Regions from separate parts of the Homo sapiens genome. Here region 2 is linked to region 1. The links come from fine-mapping of genetic effects on gene expression. A gene starts in region 1. The other region holds a variant in brackets. All regions are shown on one strand. Distances are from middle to middle.

Region 1 (5,262 bases):
AGTCTCACTCTGTTACCCAGGCTGGAGTGCAGTGGCACGGTCTCAGCTCACTGCAACCTCCGCCTCCCAAGTTCAAGTGATTCTCCTGCCTCAGCCTCCCCAGTAGCTGGGATTACAGGCATGTACCACCATGCCTGGCTAATTTTTGTGTTTTTTTTTAGTAGAGATGGAGTTTCGCCATGTTGGCCAGGCTGGTCTCAAACTCCTGACCTCAGGTGATCCGCCCACCTCGCGCTCCCAAAGTGCTGGGATTACAGGCGTGAGCCACCGCGCCAAGCCCAGAGCTCAACTTTTATGAATCACTTTTTGAATCAGTTGTCCATGGCTGTAGCTTTCCACCAAAAGTGTTGGTGATGCATCTAACTTTAAGAATGCTCCAGCTGGGCACAGTTACAGCTCATATCTGTAATCTCAGCACTTTGGGAGGTGAATGTGGGAGGATCCCTTGAAGCCAGGAGTTCGAGACCAGCCTGGGCAAAAAAGTGAGAACCCCCATCTCTACAAAAAGTAAAAAAATTAGCCAGGCATGGTGGCACACGCCTGTGGTCCCAGCCACTTTGGAGACTAAGGCAAGAAGATCGCTTGAGCTTGGGAGGTCAAGGCTGCAGTGAGCCGTGTTTGCGCCACTGAACTCCAGCCTGGGTGACAGAAGGAGACCCTGTCTCAAAACAAAAACAAAAACAAAAACAAAAAACAGAGAGGGAGAGAAAGGAAGGAAGAATGCTGCACTATTGTATGCAGGATTTTCTTCCAAGCAGCTGATCTTATTCTGCAAGTTTTGATGCTGGCACCTTCTTGATCTCACCTGAATATGTCAATTTTGTGTTTTCACGCAAAACATTCAGGACTTGTTTTCCTCCTTCAATGGTGTTATTGAATAAAAGCTGTAGGGGTTGTAACTGACTAATCAGGCTATCAAGAATAATATCGAAGTTATTTCATTTTTGGGGGGTGCAAGTAGGCTTAGTATTTAACTGTTCATATATGGGTTCCCAAAATCCATCAAGAATGAATGTACTTGGTAAGTAACTCAGGGCTCCCAGAAGACTACTAGTTCTTAGCCAGTCCCATCTCTTTCTTTTCTAAATGCTGGGGAAATCTCTTTTTGGTCCTAGGAAAATCTTCTCCAGGCAAATCTTCCCTCTTTCCCTAGGAAAATCTCTCTCCAAGTTTGAGTGACTTTTGTCTGTTAATTCCCTTCCTCCTAGGGTTATGGGTTTTATTAAACAATGCACTTATCTCAGTTGAAATGAGGACAACCTGCACAGCAACATCCACGTTGTAATACGTGGAGGTAATGACAACCAGGTCTGTACTGCCACCCGGTCAACGAGAGTTTATAAGATGCATCTTGATTTCACAGATGTTAAAATGTGGGGAAAAACATGGCTTAGCATCTGTGAAATACATAATGTCATGGTGCTTCGATCAATGTATAGTGGATTTTCTATAATTCCAAAGTTGGGATGTGGAAAAAACTTGCCTTAAAAGAAATCCGTACTTTTTGGTATGTTAAATCTAAGGGAGGTTATAAATCGAACAGTTGCAGGAGCCCAACTTTAAAGTGAGAGAAAGATGTAGTGGGGGAAGAAGGAGCTGAGAAATACAGAAAGAATAAAAACAATGGACGCAAAAGCAATAGGCAAGTTTTTTTGTTGTTGTTCTTTAAAGGGACAAAATCACAAGCTTACTAAAAAGGGTAACGACAATTACAGCTACAGCCAAAGAGCAAAGTAGCTCATTTTAAGATTATTTTTACATTAGACATAAGCTTTGCAACAGGGCCTCTCTCCATTTTAGTAAAATTGGTTTAGGTGTTTCAGAACCTTCTTATCGCAGATTATAATTTCATATTCAGTAGTGTGATTCATTTAGGTTTGTGATCTCCGTTACACTTAAACTGTTTTTGCTCACAACTATATTCGTAATGGGGTAGCGCAGTGAATATAATTGCATGACCTAATGTTGTTTGTTAATATTTGTAACCCTTTAATGTGCAGGATAGATCTTTGAATACCTAACTTCCTTAAGCCTCAGTTTTCTCAATTTGTCAAAGGGGGACAATAATAGGATTCATTCAGAGTTACTCTGAAATGAAATGCAATAATGTATAGAAACCTTAAACGGTGCCTAGCACAGAGCAAGCGCTCATTGAACAGCAGCTTTTGTGAGATGCACCTCACTATGAAATAGGCATGGAAACGGAAACGACTAGCTCTCTTAGCCCCGTTTTCTTTTCTACATTCATACGTTGCTTTGAATTGGCAAGCAGTTTTTATTTGGACCCTCAAACGCTAAAACCTTGGTCTCTACTTCGCGTCCCAACTGTGCTTATGAGTCTAGTCATTTTTGTTGGAACGCGATAGATTTCCCAAGCTCCGGAGTGGGGCCCTGACCAGGGAGGAAGTGTCCGCTTTAAGAGCTTCTGGAGGGGAGGAAGGGGCTCCTCCGCCCGGGTGGGAGAGTGAGTGAGTGGGTGGGCGGGCAGGGGGCGGTCCCGCCGCTCCTGCGTCAGAAGGGGTCTGGTTTTCGCACCTTCCCTGACGTCAAACCTCCATCAGGGTTGCAACGCCACGTTGCCTTGGATGCCTGCGTGAGTGGAGTCGCGACTCGGGGCCCGCGTCCTGAGAGACGCGCTCCCGCGCCGCTTCTCGCCTCCGGACCGCAGGGGCCGAAGTCGCCTATTTCTGGCTCCGCGGGCAGCGGGGCCGTGGCGCTCGGACGGTCTGGGATTCGGGCGCCGCCGCGGAACCGGAATAAGAAGGGAGAGCGCCCGGCTCGGTCCTCGGTCTCCACCGCGGCCCGGAAGGAATCCGGGCAGCCTCCGCGGAGGTGAGTGCCGCGGCGGGGGCGGGGCGCGGCCGGGGCGACGCCCGCGGGCGGGGCCTGCTCGCCGGGCGCCCGGGGCGCCTTCTTCCCGAGGGACGCCAGGACCGCTCGCTGGGCTCCCGCGGCCGCCTCGCAGGTCCTCGGCTTCCCCCCACCCCGCGTCCCTTTCTGCCCCTGCTGCGTGAGAGGTGTCGGCGGCTCCGGGCCGGGATCGAGGTGGCGGGGCGAGGGAAGGAGGTGGGGCGCAGGCTGCATTGCGCTTCTGTCCGGGGCCCTGGGTCAGAGGGGCCGGCGGACGAGGCCTCGGGTCCGGGCTTGGGGAGGGGGCGGTCTGCGGGGTCGGATTGAGGGCCGGGAACCCGCGGAGTCTTGCCCCTGGGCACCTGTGGGGCCGAGATCCCGAGCCACCTGTCCACACACCCCCTTCCCCCAGTGCCCTGCGTTGGGTCCAGCTGGCCCCAGACCTAGGCCTTTCCCAGCCTCGGGCGATTATAGTTTATTTGAAAACGTTTGATTTTTGTGTTAATGATTCTTTTACTACCGCCGTGCAACAGTTGTGTAAATGTGGTCGTGTTACGCCATCGTTTTTACTTGCTCCTAAGAAGGGCCTTACCAGCTCCTGCGATTATCTCACGCGATGATTCTTGGTAGCTCGTGAAAAAAATGCATAACAAGATACTGGTTCTCAAGGGACCAAAACCCCACCCCCACCTAAAGGAAATAGCTTGTTTTTGTTTTTCTTTTTTACAGCAATATGCTACGTGTGGGGAGGGGGAGGGACGATGGAGGCAGCCTGTAGCGATCTCATCCTCGAGAGAATCTGCTAACAATTTGGGGGGTATCTTTCCTTCCTTTTTAATTAATACACAAACATATATACGTGTGTTACATAAGGGGTGTTTATTTGCTTTTTTCACTTAATACGTGGAAGACCTTTTCTCTATCGTTTGAACCTAAAGCCTAGAAGGCAAGAAAGCAACTCGTTAGAGAGTTGATAAAGTATCACTGCAGTGGCCAGTGATTTGGATAGAAATAAGCTGAATTCAGGGTAAGAACTGGTTTCTATAAAATATGGTTTACTCTGCATAATAATTGGAGGCAGTGTTTTTTCAAACTGAGTTTTTTCAGCCGGTTCGTGAATGGTGAAATTAATTTAGTCATGACTAGCATTTAAAAAAAAATAAGATCGCATAAAAAAATCAGAATGCATTATATGTAATGAGAGTATTGTTTTGTGAAAAATATTTTAACTGTGCGCGTGTGCATTGTGAAATTTAGTGGGTCGTGACTAGCATTAAAAAAAGTAAGATCGCATAGAAAATATCAGACTGCATTACATGTAATGAGAGTATTGTTTTGTGAAAAATCTTTTAAGTGTGCGTATGTGCCTGTGCGTGTGTGCTCGGTTGTAATTAAAAATTTATTGGTTCCTGTGTGTCATGTTAAATAATCTTGAGAGTCGCTAATCCAAGGTACTGTCAGCACTCAAATGAGCAAGATGCAATTAAACTAGACATTAGTTTTATTTTTTCTTTGGAATAGTGGTGATGTTGATTGCAGCAAATAAGAGTCCTAATTATTTGTTTTCACCTAATATTAAAACAAGTAGTATTCCTAAAAATACAGAGAGGAAGTGTCTAAGTCGTTAAGAGGTTAAAGCATAAACTACTCAAATTGACCAGTGATCACATCTCAGTTACGCTGGTTATTGGTGTGAGACCTGCAACAAGATACCTCTTTTCTCTCAACCTCAGTTCCCTGATTTGTTAAATGGGAATTAATCATGGCAGCTACCTTATAAAGCTGTTTGTTATTTAGATGAGATAATGCACAGGAAGCTGTTGACAGAGCGCCTGGCTCAGATTAAGTACTAAGTATTAGCTATTATTATTTTATTAAGACTGAATAGAGGTGTCTAGGATAATGCTTGTCACCAGAGGAAAGCCAGCATAGCGTGGATAATCCAGAAAAGGGGAAAATTGAAAATTAGTAGTGTTGTGTGGAGGAACTGACACTGAATTAGTGTGGTCTTTTTATGCATTCGGCCATTGTTTTGTCATTGCTCCTCAATTGTTTCCCTACTGCTGGACGGAAAATTTAGATTGTCTTATTCAGAAAACCAAATGCCTTTCTATTGTCTTTCCTTATTATTATTATTTTTCAAATTAAGTTGATGTCTCTTTTGTCAGGCAGTTGAAAAATATGTTTTATGAGGATTGTGGGTTTTGTTAGTTCTTACCACACTGCCACGCCACACTCAGTTTGAGAAATACACACACGACAACTCCAGACTCATTTCAGAAATATTTTTATCCATGTTTACCTCTGCAGCTGGTGCAGATCTCAGGTGTGCAAGAAATATTTCTTTAAAAAAAAAAAAACCAAAAACAAAATGCTGTTTTATTTGTATTTTAAGACATTTCTGCCTAAGTC
Region 2 (5,494 bases), 70 kb after region 1:
CAGCTTAACATCTAATTTCCTTTTTAAATGAGAGCTCCTTGAAACTGTCTTGCTCACTATTCTGATTTAATTCAATATCTTCATTGCTGACCTAATGAGAGTTGGAATGTTATTTCTTCTATTTTGGAAGGGACACACAAAATGGCTGGAATGTAATTCGGAATTAAATAAGTTTCGACAGGGTGTACCTGTTTTACAGTAAATGCAATTATTGTAATCATCCTTGTGCATATAAACTGTTCAGAGCATGATTGGGTCACACGTATTCAGAGCTCAAAGGAAAGAGTCAGTTATAATTTAGCTAAGGGACTGGCCTGCTATAGAGTATAGTAATTTGGTCACATTGGAGAGCATTTTAGTAGCTATTTATCAGCTACACTCTTTTTGTTGTTGTTGTTGTTGAGACAGGGTCTCACTCTGTTGCCCAGACTGGAGTGCAGTGGCGTGATCTCGGCTCACTGCAACCTCTGCCTCCTGGGTTCAAATGATTCTCCTGCCTCAGTCTCCCAAGTAGTTGGGACTACAGGTGCATGCCACTACCGCCCAGCTAATTCTTGTATTTTTAGTAGAGATGGGATTTCACCATGCTGGTCAGGCTGGTCTCAAACTCCTGACCTCAAATGATCCACCCGCCTTGGCTTCCCAAAGTGCTGGGATTACAGGCATGAGCCACAGTGCCCAGCCGCAGCTACACTCTAATATGAGAATAAAACAAAATGAAAAGGGATGGATATGTAATATATGGTTCTTAAAACTGGGATCTAGGTTTGTTCATGTTTGAATGCCTAGTAAGTGTTTACCATATATATGGCTAAAGGCATTTCCCTTATTAACCTCCCTTTATTTATCTACCATCTGTGTATGTGGTATAATTTAAGAGATACTGAAAGATCCATTTGCCCTCCAATTTTTGCCATTCTAGTTTGATATGAGACTTGAAATCCTCACCATGACAGCCGTTCCTCACCATGATAGCCATCCCATTCAATTAAGTCATCCTGTTGAAGGTCCCCAGGACTAGGCGAATATTAATACTTTTGCCAGGTACCTACTGTCATTCATCTCCATAGTAAAACTGCTCACTTTATTTTTAAAAGACAGTGTCTCACTCTGTCATCCAGGTTGCAACCTCAAACTCCTGGGCTCAAGAAATCCTCCTGCCTCAGCCTCCCAAGTAACTGGAATTAAATGTGAGCCACCACACTTAGCTAATTAAAAACTTTTTTTTTTTTTTTTTTTTTTTTTAGAGATAGGACCTTGCTATGTTGCTCAGGCTGGTCTTGAACTCCTGGCCTCAAGCAATCCTTCTGCCTCAGCCTCCTAAATAGCTGAAATTATGGGCATGACCCACACTCACTATTTTTGATGATATTCTCACTTTACCCATTCCAACCTTCCTTACCTCCTTCCTGAGAATTTCCCTAACTCCTTATATATTTAACCAATTAGTGGCTGTAGGAAAACAGCCTGTTGTATGGCAAGAGTGATGCCATCTTGAAGTGAAACCGCCGTGATGATTGATGTTTGACCCCACATACCAAAGTGTTCTTTAAACAATGCCTGTAGCATGGATAACCCCTCATAAGGATGTTTGCCTAACCTGCCCAGCGGTCACGAATTTCACAAGGAAGTCTGAGGCATAACTAGCTGCACATGTTTTACCCTAAAAGCTTGCTATATAAAGAATACTTTCTGCAGGATGGGTGTGGGGATCCACCATCTTGTGGCCACCAGAGAAATGGCTCCCACTGGTAAGTCCCTATTAAATATTTCTTTCTGAGAAACTAAATTTGTCTGCTTCTTTCTTTGGCCTCTCAGCACCCTTGGCCTTTGGGGGTAGGTTTGCATAGACCTGCTTACCACAGAACAGCAGTTGTCTCTGCCCCTGTCATGGTCCCCACCAATCTTGAAGTAGGATTTACTGAGTCTTTGCATTTCCGCAAATATAGTACATACCTGCTATAATGCAGGTATGTACAACCCCTTATGTGTACAGATAAGGGGTTCTCTGTCTTTCTTCCATCTGCTGGCTGAATCCCATACTGTTACTGGACTTTCTGTCAGCCCTCATGGGCACTGCTTTTCTCTCATGGATCTGTGAGTAATAAAATGCTTTGGTTA[T/A]TTCATGTGTTTTGGTGTGCCCACTTCCTCTATGTCTCACCTGACCAACACACCTGAACCTAACTCTCCTTATAGTCGGAGCTCTCCTAGAGAGTGGCTCTCTTGGTAAGAATAAACTGGACACAGGTCAGACACAAGCCACAAGGGTATCTGCCAGTGTAAACAAGCTTCCTGTGAGAGGTACACCTGGTCACAGGTTGGAAATGTAGGCATTAGGCCAGGATAGATAAAGAAGTATTCTGTGAAGCATACTGTAAACATCCACAACCACCTCCCTGGAGCCCTGTCAGGGCAGGGCTAGACTTTATAGCTACTCTCCTGGGAAAGATCTTTTTCAGGACCAAATCCCACAAAAAGATCAAATGAGAGGAAAGTACTATTGGTACAGTGAGTAGGGTGTGTGGTCACAACTGTGAGGGACACAGCAACATAGCTTTAGCCTGCTCTTGGCTTACTAACTGGCTCTCCCGTGTGGCTGACACCATGTGGGAAGACCCCCTATTGCTGTGTGCTGCTGCCTGCCGTCTTAGTTGAGTGCTGCCAAAACTCCCCTCCCTATGTTGGATGGGTCCTAGAAAGTCCACGTCCTCCCTGGGAACCATAAATTGCCAACCTTAGTAGGGTAAGAGGGGTGACCATGGTCATTATCACTCCCCAGAATAGGAACTACTGGTCAGACTGAAATGGACTATATTCCAAGGCCTTGGATGTCTCATTATTACTCATTACTTACAGGCAGGAGCAGGTGACATGGCTCGGATGTTTGTCCCCTCAAATCTCATGTTGAAATGTAATCCCCAATGTTGGAAAAGGGGCCTAGTGGGAGGTGTTGAATCACAGGGGTGAATCCCTCATAAATGGCTTAGTGACATTCTCATGATAATGAGTGAGTTCTTGAGATACCTGGTTGTTTAAGAGAGTGTGACACCTCCCCCATCCCCTTGTTCCCTCTCTTGCCACGTGACATGTCTGCTCCTGCTTAGCCTTCTGCCACAATTGTAAGCTCCCTGGGACCTCACCAGAAGCTGAGCAGATGCCAGCGTCATTCTTCTTGTACAGCCCACAAAACTGTGAGTCAATTAAACCTCTTTTCTTTATAAATTACCCAGTCTCAGGTACTTCTTTATAGCAACCCCAAATGGACTAAACAGAAAATTGATACCAAGAGTGGGGTGTTGCTATAAAGATGCCTGAAGATGTGGAAGTGGCTTTGGAACTGGGTAATGGGCAGAGATTGAAGGAGTTTGGAGGGCTCAGAAGAAGATAGGAAGATGATAGAGAGTTTGAAACTTCTTAGAGACTGTGAGATGGTTGTGACCAACATGCTGATAGAAATATCAGCAGTGAAGGCCAGGCTGACAAGGTCTCAGAGGGAAATGTGGAGTTATTGGGAATTGAGTAAAGTCACCTGTGTTATGCCCTAGCAAAGGGCTGGGCTGCATTGTGTCCGTGTCCAAGTGTTACTGGAAAGGGGTCCTGATCCAGATCCCGAGAGGGTTCTTGGGTCTCACACAAGAAAGAATTCAGGGGGCTGGGTGCGGTGGCTCACACCTGTAATCCTAGCACTTTGGGAGGCTGAGGCAGGTGGATCACCTGAGGTCGGAAGTTTGAGCCCAGACTGACCAACGTGGTGAAACCCTGTCTCTACTAAAAATACAAAAATTAGCCCAGTGTAGTGACAGGCACCTGTAGTCCCAGCTACTTGGGAGGCTGAGGCAGGAGAATTGCTTGAACTTGGGAGGCAGAGGTTGCAGTGAGCTGAGATCACACCATTGCACTCCAGCCTGGGTGACAGAGCGAGACTGCATCTCAAAAAAAAAAAAAAAAAAAAAAAGATGTCTTAGTTCTACATCTTAAGGCCCATTGAAATTATCTCATAAAAATCATAGTCTGACAGATATTTTATGACAAAGTATGCTTCACAGTTTTTATCTCTGATCAGACATTAGAAGCCCGTGGGAGGCTGCTTGTCAAAGCCTGTGAATCTCCCTTTTTATTCCCAAGGAAACGCTTAATTCTGAAAAGCACTGTTAAAAATGAGTCTGGCCACTGAATATAAAGTACTATTGTGAATAAATGATATTCTCTACTTCCTGGAGTCCTAAGTAGAGTTCACTTTGGTCTCAAAATTTCTGCTACTGACAAGTCTGATTCCATATAAACTTTTTTCAGTTGCTGTGTGAGCAGCACCATCGTGCATTACAGGAAAAAAAGCTTCTCTGCTCTCTACTTTGTACACCTGCTTGAACTGATGTGGGCTTCAGAATTTGCCATGTTTGGTTGGAACAGTAGCTTACTAGAGGATTTGGGCCTCTGGATAAATCAATGAAAGCACCAAAACCAATAGTAATAAGACCACCATTTAGTAGAATGGTGTATATCTGCGCCTGAAAGGAATTTTTGTTTTGGGTGGAAGTTTAAGTTTGAACAGGCCCCATATCTGATAAGCAGCGGCCTGGCCTGCAGGATAATCTATAGTGAATGAGTTCCAGGACAAGAGTGCCCTACTGCTGGCCTCCAGCCCTTAGAGGATGGGGGTGAGATTGAAAATTTGTAAAGATAAGGCCAGGAGCAGTGGCTCACGCCTGTGATCCCACCACTTTGAGAGGCTGAGGCAGGCAGATCGCCTGAGGTCAGGAGTTTGAGACCAGCCTGGCCAACATGGCGAAACCCCATTTCTACTAAAAATACAAAAATTAGTTAGACATGGTGGCACGTGCCTGTAATCTCAGCTACTCAGGAGGCTGAGGCAGGAGAATCACTTGAACCCAGGAGGTGGAGGCTGCAGTGAGTTGAGAACACACCACTGCACTCCAGCCTGGGTGACAGAGCAAGTCTCCATCTCAACAAAAAAAAAAGAAAAAAAGAAAATTTATAAAGATAAGCTAAGATCTAGGGAAAATTGGAAATTTATTTGGGGGTTTATTTGTTGAACTGGAATTTGAAAGGAGTTGTTTGAGGTCATTATGTCTTTCAGTTAAACTGGTTATCAGACACCTATCAGGGACATGAAAGTTCTAGTGAATTTCTTTTTCAAGAGCCCAGCAGTGTGTATTTTAAAGAGTGAAGTGTGTGTCTTGGTATTATCAGTAATGTCTGTAACTCGAAGGGGAATAAGGAGTGTTCTGGCCTGTGCTTGTAGTGTGGCCTTAGTGTATGTGGAGACCTATATGATTTTGATTTATATTTTGGGTGTGTGCAAGGCAAGAAATTCTGAGAGTTTGTTTTTTTTTTTTGTTTTTTTTTTTTACTTTATAGGGGACAATTTTTAGGTTATGGCCCAATAATTTATAATAAGTGTGAAGATAGGGCCATTTGTTGACCTGGGTGTCCAGTGCTAAGAGGCCTGCCAGAAGTTTGGCCAAGTGTGTTG

Which allele goes with the higher level. Alleles are on the strand shown, and positions count from the first base shown. SD is a standard deviation of normalised expression in the study named.
With allele T in place of A in region 2, the expression in tibial nerve of the gene that starts at base 2,549 in region 1 is higher (small effect, 0.23 SD a copy in GTEx).

Evidence for each region. PIP is the estimated chance that this variant, and not a neighbour inherited with it, causes the effect. A credible set is the group of variants that fine-mapping cannot tell apart.
Region 2: its variant is the best candidate, but not a certain one, in a credible set for the expression of ZDBF2 in tibial nerve (GTEx, PIP 0.90).

What each region holds. Positions count from the first base shown.
Region 1 is chr2:206,272,115-206,277,376 of GRCh38, forward strand. It overlaps ZDBF2 (zinc finger DBF-type containing 2), which reads left to right and starts at 2,549. Exons shown (of 5, transcript NM_020923.3): 1 at 2,549-2,832. RefSeq lists silencers at 2,444-2,503, 2,784-3,243 and an enhancer at 2,907-3,406.
Region 2 is chr2:206,341,718-206,347,211 of GRCh38, forward strand. No RefSeq gene overlaps it. Among named protein-coding and RNA genes, the nearest start is that of ZDBF2, 70 kb to the left of the region's middle. The variant T/A (reference allele first, on the strand shown) is at 2,122.